2 separate regions of the Homo sapiens genome follow, and region 1 is linked to region 2. The links come from fine-mapping of genetic effects on gene expression. A gene starts in region 2. The other region holds a variant in brackets. All regions are shown on one strand. Distances are between the middles of the regions.

The links. PIP is the estimated chance that this variant, and not a neighbour inherited with it, causes the effect.
Region 1: its variant is the best candidate, but not a certain one, in a credible set for the expression of CUZD1 in whole blood (TOPMed, PIP 0.89).

Annotation. Positions count from the first base shown.
Region 1 is chr10:122,889,400-122,894,782 of GRCh38, forward strand. It overlaps the pseudogene C10orf88B. Among named protein-coding and RNA genes, the nearest start is that of FAM24B-CUZD1, 12 kb to the left of the region's middle. The variant A/AT (reference allele first, on the strand shown) is at 2,543.
Region 2 is chr10:122,843,641-122,849,023 of GRCh38, forward strand. CUZD1 (CUB and zona pellucida like domains 1) reads right to left here and starts at 2,217. Exons shown (of 9, transcript NM_022034.6): 1 at 2,122-2,217. The coding sequence starts at 2,203. FAM24B-CUZD1 (FAM24B-CUZD1 readthrough) reads right to left here. Exons shown (of 11, transcript NR_037915.1): 3 at 2,122-2,580. RefSeq lists enhancers at 2,005-2,506, 2,507-3,006, 3,073-3,954.

The sequences.
Region 1 (5,383 bases), 46 kb after region 2:
AGATATTTGTATTGGTTGAGATTTGTTTAAGGTTTCCAACAGTGTTAAAGTTTTAAGAATTTAATTTATTTAAATAAAGGTGGTTCTTAGGATATAGAAAGATAACATTAGTGTTCAATAATTGGCGGTCTACATCAATGATAATTACTTGTTATATGAGATGGCATAGTCTTCAATTGTTGATAGTCTGTATCAATGATAACTAGTTGTTATGTGTAATGGCAAAAAAAAAATCAAAAGACTATACAGTATACAGGGATTCAAAAACTGCTTGGGACACTTCTGGGTCCAGCTGAGATAGAACATTGCCATTCCTCTCAGATCCTCATTTTACAAATAAAAATCCTTGGACATAGCACAACGAAGAAACATACAAGGACTGTTAAAGGTAGAAAGAAGTCAGACTCTTAGGGACTGTGGGATTTGAGGAGCAATGCAATGTTGAGTTTTTCTGCCTTCCATATATCTTGGATGGGGTGCCAAAGAAGTCTGCAACCTGGGACAACCAGTGGGGACAAAAATTAAGAGCTTCAAGAAAAGCCTATTCCTTCTAACCAAAGGACCAGGAAAAGGGAGTCCTAACAAAACAAAACCTTTCAATAATACTTGTCTACTCCAGTCAAACACCAATGGAAATACTGCCCTCCTGCCTGCCCTGTTGAATGAGGCAGTTGTACTCTGGTTTCTCTACTGGGGTGGTATCAGCAAGCTAAATGGTGAGCTGTTCTTCCATCTCTCAGTCAGAAGAAGTGGGCAGCATTCCAATTCTGCTACTGGGTGGTATCAACAGAGCCGAGTAGAAGCTAAACTTCCAGCCCCTGCTCAGCTGAAACAAGCAGTACTTCAGTTCTACCAGGGTGATGTCACCACTGCCCCACAAAATCAGACGATACTTTAATTTTCTAGCTGGGGTGTTATAAGGAGAGGAAGGGAGAGTTTGGAGCTGAAAAAATATCTGAAGAAATAATGGTTGAAGTTTCCCCAAAGCTGAAATGGGGAAAGGCGTGAACTCACAGATTCAAGAAGCTGAGTAAGTCCTACACAGGATAAATTCAAATACGTCTATGCCAAGTCATATCATAATTTTTTGAAAATGAAAAAATAAAAAATAAATTCTAAAAGAAAGCTGGAGAGAAACAACATATTCTCATAGAGAAATACCAAGTTTGTTGACAGCTGATTTCTCATCTGAAATTATGGTGGCCAATAAGAAGAGGCACATTTTTCAAGTGCTGTAAAAGAACTGTGAGTCACAAATTGTATATCCAGCAAAAATATCCGTTAGGAACAAACAGCAAGTAAAGACAGTCTCAAATAAATGAAAACAGATTATTTTGCACTGGCAGGCCTACCCTTAAAGAATGGATAAAGCAAGTTATCCAAGGAAATGATGACAAAAGAATGCTTAGAACTTCAGAAAGGAAGAAAGATCAATGGAATGGATAAAAACAGAGGTAAATATGACAGGCTATCCTTCTCATAAGTCTCTTAAATCATATTTGATGGTTGAAGTAAAAGTTATAACACCATATGATGTGGTACTTAATATATGTAGAGGAAGTATCTAAGATAATTATATTTTAATAATTACTATAAATATAAATGGCTAGATTCACCAATTAAAAGAAATGTATAGAATGGGTTATAAAATACAACCCAACTATATGCAGTTGACAAAACACACTTTTCAAATATAATGACGTAGGTAGGTCAAAAGTAGGAAGATATGCCATGAAAACATTAATTTTTTAAAAAGCAGAAGTCGTATATTAGTATCAGGTGAAGCAGGCTTCAGAGCAAAGAAATTCACTAGATAAAAAGAGGGACATTACATAATAATAAAAAGACAATGACATAGTGATCCTAAATGGGTATGCAGTAAACAGAGGTTCAAACTACATGAAGCAGAAAACTGATAGATACAAAAGGATCAATGGACATAACCATAATTATAGTTGAATACCTAACACCCCACGCTCAGTTATTGATAGAACTGTTAGACAAAATTATAGGAAAGATATAGAACTGAATAGCACACTATCAGTCATCAGGATCTATTTGACATTTGTAAAACACTCCATTTCAGCCATTTCGAAAGTTAATGTAATCTACCATTTCAGCGGACTAGAAGAAAATTCATATGACTATATAAATTAACACAGAAAAGTATTTTTAAAATTCTAACACCAATCTATGATGAAAGAAACTCAGAAAACTAGAAATTGAGAGGAGCTGCCTCAACTTCATAAAGGATATCTACAAGAAACCTATAGCTAACATAATACTTAATGGTGAAAGACTGAATGCGTCCCTCCTAAGTGAAAAATAAGGCAAGGATGTCCTTTCCCACCACTGGGTTTATTTTGTTTTTGTTTTTGTTTTTGTTTTTTTTTTGAGACAGAGTCTTGCTCTGTCGCCCAGGCTGGAGTGCGATGGCATGATCTCGGCTCACTGCAAGCTCTGCCTCCTGGGTTCATGCCATTTTCCTGCCTCAGTCTCCTGAGTAGCTGGGACTACAGGTGCCCGCCACCATGCCTGGCTA[A/AT]TTTTTTTGTATTTTTAGTAGAGACAGGGTTTCACCATGTTAGGCAGGATGGTCTTGATCTCCTGACCTCGTGATCCACCTGCCTCAGCCTCCCAAATTGCTGGAATTACAGTCATGAGCCACCGTACCCAGCCGTCACCACTCTTACTCAACATAGTACTGGAAGTTATAGCCACTGCAGTAAGACAACAAAAATTAAATATAGATTGCAATGAAAGAAAACTGTCCTTATTTACAGATGACAAGATGGTCTATGTAGAATATCCCAAGGAATATTTTTTTAAAAAAGGTTTAGAACTGATAAATGAGTTCAGCAAAAGTCACAGGATGAAAGATCAAAATTAGTTGCTTATCTATATTCAGTTGGCCCTCCATATCCATGGCTTTTGCATCATGGATTAAACCCACTGTGGATCAGAAATAGAGAAAAAATAATTGTGTCTGTGCTGAACATGTAGACTTTTTTCCTGTCCTTATTGTCTAAGTAATACAGTATAACAAGTATTTACATAGAATTTACTTTTATTAAGTATTGTCATCTTATATAAGGGACTTAAGCATCTGCAGATTTTGGTATCCACAAGGGTGGGTTTGGGGAGGGAGGTCCTGGAACCAGTCTCCCACAAATACTGAGGCTTAACTGTACAAATGATGATGTGTGGAAACCAAAATTAAAAACAATTTCTTTTTATAACTCACCTGTCAACAATGAATTATTAAATTAAATGTTGGCTTCCTAGTAGAAAATTGTAAGAATAAAAGTAAGCTTTTCAACTTAAAAGAGACACACTCACTATACTATTTATAGTTGCTCCAAAGAAAACTAAATACTTAGGTATGAATCTAACAAAACATGTACAGGATATATATGCTGAAAATTGTAAAATGCTGATGAAAGAAATCGGAGAAGATCTAATTGAGGGACATACCCTGTTTATGGCTTGGTGACTCAACATAGTAAAATTGTTAGTTCTCCCTATTGATATGCAGGCTTAATGTAATTTGTATCAAAATCCCACCAAGACTTTTTGTAGACAAAAACAAGGCTTTTTAAAATTATATGAGAAGGCAAAAGTAGTAGAATGGCTAAAACAACTTGTTTTTCTTTTTTCTTTTCTTTTTTTTTTTTTTTTTGAGATGGAGTCTTGCTCTGTCACCCAGACTGGAGTGCAATGGTGCAATCTCGGCTTCCTGCAACCTCCACCTCCTGGGTTCAAGCAATTCTCATGCCTTAGCCTCCCGAGTAGCTGGGACTATAGGCGCCCGCCACAACGCCTGACTATTTTTTGCATTTTTTGTAGAGATGGGGTTTCACCATGTTGGCCAGGCTGGTCTTGAATTCCTGGCCTCAAGTAATCCGCCTGCCTTGGCCTCCCAAAGTACTGGGATTAAACGCTCAGCCTAAAACAACTTTCAAAAAAAGAATTAAATGATTGGGAATCACTCTTCCCAGTGTAGAGTATCCAATACTGTTTAGTATTATGTGGGGATTGAAATATAAATCAATGGAACATAATAGAGGGCCAGAAATAGACCCTCACAAATATGCTCAATTGATTTTTGATAAAGGTGCAAAACTGGCCAGGGGTGGTGGCTCACACCTATAATCCCAGCACTTTGGGAGGCCAAGGCGGGCAGATCACTTGAGCCTAGCATTTCAAGACTACTCTGGGCAACATGGCAAAGCCCTGTCTCTACAAAAAAATATGAAAATTAGCCAGGCATGGCGGCGCATGCCTGTAGTCCCAGCTATTTGGGAAGCTGAGGTGGGAGGATCACTTGAGCCCAAGAAGTCGAGGCTGTGGTGAGCTGAGATCGTACCACTGCCCTTCAGCCTCAGCAACAGAGTGAGAGTCTGTTACAAAAAAAAGGAGTGGGGGGGTGGTGCAGAAAGGATAGCACTTTCCAAAAATGGTGCTAGAGCAATTAGATATCCAAATTCTTTCACCTAAACTTCACATCCAACACAAAAATTAACTCAACATGGGTCATAGATTTAAATGATCTTTTGGATGGAAACTGGAGAAAATCTTTAGCAACTAAGAATTGCAGAAAAGTACTTAAACATGACACCAAAAGTACAATCGATAAAATAAAATTAATAAATTTGACTTCATTAAAGATAAAAAATTCTGCCCTCTGACTCAGTTAAGAGGATGAAAATACAAGCTACAGATGGGAGAATATATTATTTGCAAACCTAGGTATGACAGATGACTCATACCTAGGATATATTAAGAACTCTCAAAACTCAACAGTTAAAAAAAAATCAATTTAGAACATGGGCGAGACAGGAGATATTTCACCAAAGAGAATATGCAAACAGCATATGAACATGAAAAGATATTCAACATTACTATCCATTAGGAAATTCAAAATAAGACCGTGATGAGATATCGCAGCACACCTATTTGAACAGCTAAAATAAAAGCTCAGGTGGCAGGACAAGTGGCAGTGTGCAGGCAGTCCAGCAGCCCAGCTTCATGAAGGCTCATGGTGCACTTCAGCCCTCAGGCACCAGAGGAAGCTCAGCCCAGCTGAAGGGGCAGTGAAGGAAGGGCCCAAGAGGAGGCCCATGAGGTTGTCAGATAAACCTGCTCCAGCAAAAGTGAAAACAAAACCAAAAGAGGCAGCAAGGAAGAATCATCCTCAGACAAAAAAAGTGCAAATAAAAGGGAAAAGGGGAGCAAAGGGAAAGCAGATTCAAAGTGGATAAACAAGAAACTAAAGATTTAAAGATTTACCTGCAGAAAACAGACAGACCGAAAATGAGAAGAGTCCAGCATCTGATGAAGCAGGAAAGAAAGAAGCCACGTCTGATTCATGTCCGGTACCATGTCT
Region 2 (5,383 bases):
CTAAGTGAAATACCACATATTACATGATTTCATTTATGTGAAATATCCAGAATAAGTAAATTTATAGAGACAGAAAGTAGAGTAGTGGTTTCCTTGTGCTGGAGACATCAGGAGAAATGGAGAGTGAATGGTAGTGAATACAGACTTTCTTCATACATATATATACATACATATATATATATATATATATATGTCCACACAGAAACTTGTACACTAATATTCATCACATTAGTCTATATATAATATACAGTTATATATATTGTTAGATATATTTATATATATATAAAACATTGGTCTATATATAGAGACTATATATATAGACTATATAAAGACTATATATAGACTATAGAGAGACTATATATATAGAGAGACTATATATAAATATATATATATATAGAGAGAGGGACAGACAGAGTCTCACTCTGTTACCTATACTGGATTGAGATGGCACAATCATAGCTTACTGCAGCCTCAAACTACTGGGCTCAAGTGATCCTCCCACCTCAGCCGCCAGAGTAGCTGGGACTACAGTCATGTACCACCATGCCTGGCTAAAAAAATTTTTTTTTTAATTTTGTAGAGTCGAGGTCTCACTACGTCGTTCAGGGTGGTCTCAAACTCTCAGCCTCAAGCAATGCTCCCATGTCAGCCCCCCAAAGTGCTGGGATTGTAGGCTTGAGCCATCATGCTGAGCCTGAGACAGTTTCTTTTGGGGGTGAAGAATATGTTCTGGAATTAGATAGTGGTGATTGTTGCACAATTCTGTGTATATACTAAAAAACACTAAATTGTATACTTTAAAATGGTGGATTTTATGGTATGTTAATCATATCTTAATAAAGCTGTTATTAAAAAGGAGAAAGAAGAGAAGAAAGAGAAAAGGGGAAGAGGAAAAATAACTGGATCCTAAAGATAAGCTGTTAGCAGTGAAATTACCCGGTAAGGGGCTGGGCGTGGTGACTCACACCTGTAATCCCAGCACTTTGGGAGGCCAAAGCGGGTGGATCACTTGAGCTCAGGAGTTCGAGACCAGCCTGGGCAACATAGTGAAAATTTTTTTCTATAAAATTTTTAAAAATTATTTGGTAAATTCTTATATTTTTATGTATGTTGTCAGATGGGCCCAAATAAAATTAGTACTAATTCAAAATCCCACCAAGATTTTGACTAATGGTCAAAAACCCCACCTACATAGGAACAAAGCTTTATTTTTATTTATTCTCCCATATACTCCCATAACCCCATCCATCCAGAAACAATCATCACTAAAACCTTGGTGTAAATTCTTCCACTCCTTTTCCTTTCCTCTTCTATTTCTAGACATTTAAAATGCTTGAATGTATATATTTCAAACATAAGAACCATCATATTGTACACAAACTTCAGATCTCTTTTTTCTCTTAATGTGGTCTATGGACACATTATAGATCAGAGTCTTTTTTTTTTTTTTTTATGAGACGGAGTCTTGCTCTGTCACCCAGGCTGGAGTGCAGTGGCATGATCGCAGCTAACTGCAACCTCCACCTCTCGGGTTCAAGCGATTCTCCTGCCTCAGCCTCCCGAGTAGCTGGGACTACAGGCACGCATCACCACACCTGGCTAATTTTTGTATTTTTAGTAGAGATGGGGTTTCACCATGTTGGCCAGGCTGGTCTCGAACTCCTGACCTCGTGATCCACCCACCTTGGCCTCCCAAAGTGCTGGGATTACAGGCGTGAGCCACCGCCCCCAGCCATCATTTTTTTTTAAGTTGCAAAAAAGAGTGTTCCATTTTATGGATTTACCGTAAGAAATAATGAAAATTCATGTTGTAGTTTACAATTATGTAAGTGCACATATTTATACATATATCTTTGGACACTTTTATGCTTATTTCCAAAACATAAACTCTTAGCAGTAAATTACTCAGTAAAATTCTATACACTTTTGATATTTTTATGGACATTGTCAGATGAGCCAAATAAAATTAGAACTAATTTAAAATCCCCTCCAAGAGCATTAGAGTACATTTTTCTCTGAACTGGGGCCAACAGATATAAACACTTTGAAAAATTTTGAAAGAGGCCTCTTAAGAGAAGAACTTCTCTGTTTTGGTGAATAAATCTGGTTCAATTTTCTTACCTTCAGCCTCCGCCATTGTCAGCTCCGCCAAACAGGAGAGAATTAAGAGGGTCAATGGCATGAGCCTTCTTACAAGCTCCATTTTGGCAAGGCGCTGGGCAGCCTTAAGGACCGACAGCTTTTATAGGCTCTGTGTTACATCAGCTTTCTGGACACCTCCAGGGAAACGTCAGTTCCAGCCACGCAAGGGGTAGATTTGTGTGAGAATAGAGCAGCTGTGTGACTGGTTTATCAGCATTCCCCACAGTGAGGGTTCTCTCTCCCCAACTCCTTCCTGGAAGGGTTGCCCCCAGTGGAAGCTCTCTGTAGGGATCTCCAGCAGCTGGTTCCCAGCAGGCACTGAGTTATTTTCCATGAAACTGATGGGGAGCTGTGCCTTTCTTCTGTGCCTGCACATCACAAACAGGTGGCCTCATTGACATCATTGAAGTCTTCAGGGCTCTGCTTTGAGAAGGGAGCCTGTGGGAGAACAAAGGCCTGTGGGGCAAGGCAGGGGGTGCAGCACCTGGGCAAAATCTGGGTCCAGCTGGGACATTCAGATGCCCTGCCAGGTGGCTGACCCTGTGGGGGAGGGGAAGAGGGTAGAGGATGAAGAGAAAAAGAGTGCAGATCCAGATTCCCCCACAGCGATTTCTAACCAGTTATGTCTGGAGAGACTGAAGCAGGTGAATTAGTCTCTCGGGCACGGTGTTTTGCAGTTGAGAGAAAGAAATCCTAGTGTCCACATTGAGATTGGGAGGAGCAAGTGGTGGTGGGTGGGGGCTGCCCTCTTTTCATTCATTCAGTCAGTAAACATTACTTATTGATCTAGGGCCTAAGCAATATAGAATTGAATGTGAGAGACACAGTCCTGCCCTCATGAAACTTGTATTCTAAGTGGAGAGTTAAACAACAAAAATAAATGAAGAATTCAACTGGTGAGAGGAGCTAAGGATACAATAAACAGGATGACTGCATAGATGGTGGTTGCCTTGGGGTGGGGAGGAAATATGACAGTGAGAAGGAGGGCATCTTGAGAGATGAAATCTGAACAAAGGCAGAAAGACAAGAGGGAGGCATTCATGGGTGATCTGAGCTTGGGGGCTGCATCTTAGGCAAAAGAGAGGGCAAGTGCACAGGCCCCGAGGCAGAGACCAGGTGGGCACACCTACAATAGTAGGGAATAAAGAACAGCCTGGCTGGTCATGAGTGGGAGGAGTGAGCTGGGAGGGGAGGATGGAGAGGAGCAGGTGAAGGTCAGATGGGGAAGGACCCATAGGGCAAATGAGTCTGGTTTTCACTCTAAGTTCAGGTGGAACATATTGAGTGGACAATGCCAGGACTGGCTACTTTCTGAAGAACCTTTGTGCAGCTCTGGGGAGGTCTGACGCTCGTGTAGGCTAAGTCTCCTAGGGTGAAACCCTCTGGCTACCGTCAGCCCCTCTGTGTTGTTCTGACTGTGCTGCAGCCCAGGAGGCCTCCCTAGGGAGAGCACAGTCCTACGTTGTGACCCAGGGGATCCATTCCTCGTTGGACCCTTGCAGGGGAAAGGCAGCACCTGGGATGCTCAGGAGGAGCTTGGACATACCCCAAGGCCCCTGCCTTGCTCTGCTCCATTCCTATCTGCCCGGGCTGGCTGTGGATGAGGCAGGACTGGGTGTCCTGGGGTGAGTTAGCAGGCCACAGGTGTTTGAGATGGGGGACCCTTCTGGTTACTAAGCGCTTGCAGCTGTGTCCATGGATACCCACTCCCACCCTGGGCTTTCCCTCTGAACCCCTCTTTGTCACCCATGGCTGGGATCTCCAACATCCCTAATCCATCTCCACTGAGTGCGAGAGTTTCATGGCCACACTCTGTTAGGTGGCCCTGGCAAAGGACCCAGGCTTCCAGATCCAGTCAGGAGAGAAGCCCCCTTCAGGCCTCTGGCAACTTCCTGGGGACCACGGGGTGCTGTGGGGTCACCCTGCATCATCTCATTGCTTCTTCTCTGTCACCTGTGCAAGTCCGCACTTCACATCAAGGACACAGAGGCTCAGATGAGTCAAGGGACTTCCCCTGGTGAAGGCCGAATTGGGATGGGAACCGGCTCCATAGGGCTCTAAAGCCCATGTGCGGTGCTCTGTCCTCCTGCTAATGGGGGTGTCCTGAAGACCTTTGTCCCACCTCCCTCACGGCCCCCGCAATACCTGCACCAGGTATAGTCACCCACATGGGGAGGCCCTGGCACAGGCGTCCTGGATCCAGGCACTGGGCCACCCACTGGGTGGGGTAAGAGGGGATTTGTATGTGCTCCATCTGTCAGAGCTGGCTGGTGACAAGAGAAAATCAAAGGCAGGGGACAGAGACAGTGCCCGGAAACTTAAGGGGGACAGGTGACCTCCAGCTGGAGGCTGCCCTGACTTGGCCTCTTCCCAAGCATGCTGGGGCTGGAGGCTCAGCCTCCAGGAGGTGCTCGGCGTCTACAGGCAGCTCCTCCACCCACATCTGGCCTGTTTCTGTGCCTAGCTGTCACAGCTGTTTCCTTCATTTGCGACTTCTGTTTTCCTTTTTACCCCCTTTTAGTAGATTACCACCTGTTACTAGCTAATAATTCTTTACATTCAGTATACATGTGATGGTCACAAGCAAGGGTTTAGTTCATGAGAGGAGTGGACATGGCGGTTACAGATAGGGAATCATGCTTAGAAAGGGGTTCCAGGAGGCTCAGGGGCAGGAGCTGGAACAGAAGGCAGCTGGGAGTAAAGTGGGGAGGAGTGCTTCCTGCCACCTGCTGTTGTGGTCAGGGAGTCTGGGCTTTGGCCTTTGGCTGGTGGTTCGTGTTACAGTTGAAGATGTTGATGGCTGGATCAACACACATCACTGTTACCGTAATCCACGCAGGAGCCACATGCTCTGGAGATTTGGGGATTGCAGTAGGAAGAAACTGGTTTTCAAAAGGTCCTTTTGAGGTCACTGAGCTCAGGCCTATCTTACACAGGTCAGACAACTTTAACACAGGGAGGTCCTGCCTGGCTCCTCTCACTGTCTTGGATAAATGGACAGGACAACAGGACAGGTATCAGGACATGACACCATTTTCTGCGGTGGATGTCAACCATCCAAGCCCTCACGAGAGCTAAACGAGCGACTCCAGCTGGACAAGATCAGCTGGGCTGAAATTGGAAGTGTCCTAAGAACAGTGTGCATTTTCCTTCTCGGGTGGGAGATGTGCTGGACACTTTTATTCCAATTCTCTTTCTTCTATTGCAATGCTACAAGCTAATCCCCCCCCACATTCCAAAG